Linked DNA regions of Homo sapiens: region 1 is linked to region 2. Evidence: fine-mapped expression QTL. A gene starts in region 2. The other region holds a variant in brackets. All regions are shown on one strand. Distances are from middle to middle.

Region 1 (2,925 bases), 95 kb before region 2:
TCTTTGAGTTTCGGAAAAACTATGGGGGAGAGAAATGTGTCAAAGGAAGTACCACAGACTGTGTTTTATCCCAGTATAGGGTGCTGCTTTCGCAGAAAAGCGAAAAACATTCCCAAATAAGAGTATATTTTTGTTTTGCTACTGGAATTATTCCTCAGATGGCTTGTGCCTGTTTTTAGAGTGATACAAATTTGCAACGTGTACCTATGTGTGGATGGATGTCTCATAAGTCTATTGTCATAAATGTGACTATTCAGTATATCTTTATTGAGCACGTATGTTGTACCAAGTAACATACTGTGTACTAGAAATTTAAAGAAATAGAAAGCAGAGCTCCTGCTTTCAAGGAACTCAGTTTGATGTGGCACCATGATAGCTCTCAGGCAATTTAAGTCTATACAAGAATTCAGAGAAGGAAGGATGAGATTAATCCAGCCAAAAAGGGTTGAGGCATTTGACTTGGGATTATAAAGATGAATCATACTTTAGAAGCATGGGGAAGGGGAGTGAAGATGGGGTTGGTTAAAAACCTAGGAAATTTGAAAACAAAAAATGAAAATACAAAACACAATTTGGAAAGATGGGTTATGTAAAACAATTGGAGCATGGAGTGAGTGGTGGGGAAGAAAGTAAAGTGATCTTGCATAAATAGCCTAATTTCTCTACATATTTTTCATATTAAACACCCAAAAGAACAGCTTATTTTTGTCTGATATTTAAGTTATGTTTATAAAGATTTTATTGAGCAGAATGTGATCAACACTGCTGGTATTACAAAGCATAGGGGCATGTTGTAGATTAATTTGTATGATGTATCCATATACGGTTTATATGCATATATAGCATAAACGCTTCCTTCAAGATTGGTATATGTGTAACCTAAATTAGTCTCTAGCTCCAATTCTGATACTGTTTAAGTATGTAACATTGGCTAAGTTATAACATTTCTAAAATGTAACTAGACGGTCTATAATTCTTTCAGCCAAAACCTTTTGGAGTGATCTTATGACTTTGTGATTCAAGGCTGAATATTTGGAATCAGACTGTCCTGGATTGAAATCCTAGCTCTCCTGCTTGCCAGTTGTGTAAACTTTATCATTTTGCTGTAATACAGTGCATTCTCTAATCCTCAAATCCCTCTTATATAAAACTAAAAATAGTGTCTATCTCATAGGATTGCCTTTAGATTTAGTGTAAAGTGCTTAGCCCATTTCTGTCACATAGTGAGTACTTAACAGATGCTGCCTATTACTATTGTGCGATTCCATACTGATTAGTAAAAGAATCATATCCACTTAATTTCTGGGCCTTTGAATGTCAAAAACTAGGCCTGTGTCATTCTAATAAGCATGATTAGGCTTTTTAAATAAACATTATTCACCTCAGTCTTGGGCAGTGATTTCTCATGCTTGAATTTTAGTTTTGGCTTTCCTAAGACTTCTTAGTTTAGCTTCTGGCACTCTTTCCAAGACTTATTTATTTTGGAAAACTAATATGACTCAT[C/G]TCTCAAGATAACTGGCCCTTGACTGCCATACTTGATTTAGTTTGCCCACAGTTCTTGGTAAAAGATCCTGCTACTACTGAGCCCAGTCCCATGGAATCAGCTCTAACTAAGCTATCACTTCAGACATAGAAGAGTAAAGAACAAAGAGTAAAGAAGGCAATGAAGATAAACAACTGAGTGTCCACAGGAACTGGTGGCACCCTATTTTCACAAAAGAATTGGCATTAAGAATTGGAATGGTCCTTGGAAGTTTCTATTCTAACACATATTTTCAGAGTGTAAAAAATGATCACAAATTCTACCCCCACCCCCACCCCACCCCACATCAAGAAGTGAGTCTATCTAGTTTCTCGCTTCTTGAGTCTGGACTAGTCTTATTACTTGCTTTTCTGACATACATGACATAGAATAAAATAGAGTAGGTTTTGATTCTCAGACTAAAGATTTGTATATTTCATCTCTCTCTCTCCCCCACCTCTCCTTTCATCTTTTCCTCTCTCTCTTTCTCTTTTTCTCTCGGAGAATGTTTAGCATATGAGCAAGCCAGTTTAAACTATTGGTGGGTGAGAGACCATGTGTAGAGAGGTCCCATTCATCCCAGTCTTTCTAGTCAAAGTCATCTTAAACTAGCCAACCCCCACCCAACCCAAAAGCTCTTGCCAAATGCAAGAGAAAACTTGATATACAAGAAGAAAAAATAAAGCCCAGCTAAGCCCAGACAAATTGTTGACTTACAGAATTATGAGCTAAAAAAACTGGTCATTGTTTTATGCACTAAGTTTTGCATAACTGCTATACTAAGCAATGCATGAATCACCTCTAAAATACTGCCTACAAGTGGCCAAATAGCTATTGCATTAAGGAAGAAATTTTCTCCCCACATTCATTTTCATGAGTGTGAGGATACTATATGGCTCAATAATTAGCGTAGGTCAACCTTTCAAACCCTTTAAAGTATTAAAGTAATCACGTGAGTTTTCATTATAACAGATTTAAATCACAAATGAAATTGTCAGTTTATTTTTGAGTTACCAAATTCCTTACACAGCTTTTAAAGTTGCATTGTACACTGTTTTGCTTTCTCATTTACTTTAACCCAGAAATACTTTCTAAGCTTAAGTACATTCAAAACTTGTTTTTTTCTCACCTGATTCTACTGATCTCTGGGATTTGTTATTTTCAGAATCCATTGTTTGTTTTGCTAACTTTTTCTCGCACTGTATTACCTTTCTTGGCTTAAAAACCCAATAGGCTTGGTAAGCCAGATGTACGCCTGTCCAACCAGCTCACCCCAGTTTGAATCACTACTCTTTCATCTTCTCTGCCTTCCCAGTATGGCTTAGATATTCTCAAGCCTTGGCTTGCTTCCAGTCTTTTCAGAACAGTATTCTGAATTATGTCTATAGCATTTGTTTTAACTT
Region 2 (2,925 bases):
GTGAAATCAGCCCCTTATGTATAGTACATGGACACATCTGTTGTGACTACACCATGTTCGAACTGCTACTAAATATCAGCTATTGTATGAATTTATGGTGTTGAATGAGCACCAGCAATGTGTTTTAAATAATTTGTGTATATGTGTAGCCCAGTTTGTTTTATATTGGTCAATAAATTCTAAAGACAATTTTCACTGTATTTGTTTTAAAAGAAAAATCCCTCTGAAATACTGGTGAATTCAGGCAGCTCTTTTCTTAAGGATCCTTTAAGATAAAGACCACTTCTGCGATACTTGTGTTATGTTATATAAAGTTATTTTGTTTTTGTTTTTAGCTAGGGAGAACAAATCACTCAATATTCTGTTTTTAATGAGTTAGAATGAGAATGGAAAATTAGATGATTAAGGCTATATCTATAATGTTTTTTAAAAATGAGATTTTCATCATGCATTCCATTGGTGTGAAAACGAAAGTAAGCTGCTGCTTGGTTCCAGTTGTGCTGAAATTTCTGCTAAAAATAGCACAAGGGGGAAAAAAGAACTTGATGATTACATGTCTTTTTTTGTTTTTTTTTTTTTGTATTTCAGCTTTTTTTGTTTTGTTTTGTTTTGTTGTTGTTGTTGTTGTTGTTTTGGTCAGTGTAGCCACAGCTAGAAAGGAGTAATTTCAAAAATGTTTTAGATATATGCTTGGCACATGGTTCTTTAACATTTATAAAAGTAGATTGTGCATAATGACAGATTTTAAATACTGTAAGCATTATTAGATGATATAATTGTTCTTTTGCTGTAAATTTAAATATTCATACATTTTTGTAGAGTTAAAATATGCCAATTTAGTTTTCCTTTGGTATATATTGCCTTTTTGGAAAATAAATGGTTAACATTTCAAATAGATAAACAACGTCACTATTTTATGCTTAACCTCCATGTTTGTGGATTATTTAAATAAATGATTAAGTGCCTATGAATATCTCCTTGCACCAAGAAAATGTTGTGTTCCCAGTACAATTTTGTTATCAAAATATATAAAATAGAAACACTAAAATATGCATGATTTTAAAGCATTTATTTTTATTTATTTTTGATTCTGAAATGATTTGAGGTGGATTTTTTTTCTTTCTGTTTTATAAAAATGACTAAAAATAGAAAAATTTAAAAGTCTCACATCAATGATAAAAATTATTTTTCAGAATATAGACCATACCCAATACCTGGCTTCTGAGACTGGAATCCTAAGACAGTGTGTCAGGGTGAGAGAAGATGGAGAGAAGCTGCCCACTCCACAGCACAGCGCAGGATCAACTCTTCAGTCTTAACCACTAAGATAATCAAAAAGAGCATTTAATTTTCTAAGGTGGAGAAAGGAAGGAAGGGGAGGAAGAGGGAAGCAAGAATAAAGAAGAAGGAAAGGAAAGGAAAGGGAAGGGGAGGGGAGGGAAGGGAAGAGAGAAAGACGATGCTAATAATCTGTTTTCATAATTTTATTCTGAAGAGACTCATCTGAAAGTTCCTGTTCAGAAGTCCATTGATTTGCAAACATGAACACCTCGCTAGTTTTCCGCAACTTATAACTGTCAGCAAGTGTAAAGGACATTTCTAGATTTTGTCCCTTCTTGGCTTTCTGTAAACCAAGTGTGACTCCAGATACCCAACTCTGTTACTCTCTTTTCGGTTACTCTTGTCCACGCACAGCATACATTTCCAGCAGTAACCAGGTACTCAAGTATAACCTAATAAAGCAACCCCACCCACTTCAGGCTTTGATAGATCCATAACTTACCCTGTCTTGCTTTTCTTCAGCACCTGGTAGAAACAGAATGTGAGCTCTCATGCTCAGAACTGTGCTTTCGTCTTCCTCCTCAGCCAAGGAGACTCTTAGGTAGGCTTTCTGTTGACTCACTCATTTTCTGACATCATGAATTTTTTCCCCCGCAGGACAGAGGATATTAATCACCAATCTCTGCTTCCACTGTGGGAAAGAGGTGGTAGGTAGCCCACTGAAATTCTTTTGACAGAAGTCTCTTCACCAATTTTTTGAAGTGAAAAACTAGGTAAACATGCAAACATCTAAAACAGATTTTACAGTTTTCTCTGCAACACAAAACACCTGAACTTACTGCAGCAAGCACTCTATCTCCTACATGATAATATATATAAGGTGGAGGCTGTGAAATCAACATTGTCTAAACAATTGAGGTCAGAATTTAAAACACCCTTCCTTAAGACTAATGGGACCTGTGTTCTCAGCCCTGAGCCTGCAGCTTGCTTTCCCTATGTACCTGTGAAACGTTTTGGCTTTTAAACAACGACATGAAGTTAAGTTGCATATATAAAAGCACTTCAAATTTCTTCCTTTATTTATATGGACCAAAGGGGTGGAGAATCCATTTTTTCCCACATAGTTAGCTTTTTAAAACTCTAGTTTCCATTAGTGGATTTAGAATCATTTGCCTCAGCAGCTCACCAACTCCTCCTTTGGATATTCTTTCTTCATTTTTTGGTTTTCCTTCCACCTCATTGGCCATTGATTTCCAGTTTCCTTTGCTAAGCTTTCCCTTCTTTCTCCCATGTCTTAATATTGGAGTGCCTCGAGGTGCAGTCCTTGGCCTTCTCAATTTGCATTGACTCTTTGGTGATCTCATCCAGAAGCACATATTTCAATGTCTCCGATGCTGATGACTCCCAAATATCTCTATCCAGTTCAAAAACTGCCTACTTGACATCTACACTTGGATAACTAATAGACACCTGAAACTTGGTTTGTCCAAAACTTAACTTTTTGCCTTCTCCTACAAATCTGTTCAACCCAGAGATTTCCATCTCAGTTGATGGCAACTCCATTTTGCCAGCTGCTCAGGCCTAAAATCTTGGTATCCTTGAAATCTCTCTCTCCATTAGAAAATCTCCTTAATTCCACCTTCA

Alleles and levels. Positions count from the first base shown, and alleles are read on the strand shown. Sizes are in standard deviations (SD) of each study's normalised expression.
With allele G in place of C in region 1, the expression in tibial artery of the gene that starts at base 1,856 in region 2 is higher (moderate effect, 0.44 SD a copy in GTEx).

What was found. PIP is the estimated chance that this variant, and not a neighbour inherited with it, causes the effect.
Region 1: its variant is the best candidate, but not a certain one, in a credible set for the expression of GALNT13-AS1 in tibial artery (GTEx, PIP 0.83).

What each region holds. Positions count from the first base shown.
Region 1 is chr2:154,360,433-154,363,357 of GRCh38, forward strand. All of the region lies in intron 9 of GALNT13 (polypeptide N-acetylgalactosaminyltransferase 13), which reads left to right. Among named protein-coding and RNA genes, the nearest start is that of GALNT13-AS1, 96 kb to the right of the region's middle. The variant C/G (reference allele first, on the strand shown) is at 1,504.
Region 2 is chr2:154,455,583-154,458,507 of GRCh38, forward strand. It overlaps GALNT13-AS1 (GALNT13 antisense RNA 1), which reads right to left and starts at 1,856. Exons shown (of 5, transcript NR_161181.1): 1 at 1,784-1,856; 2 at 1,215-1,322. It also overlaps a transcript of GALNT13 not described here.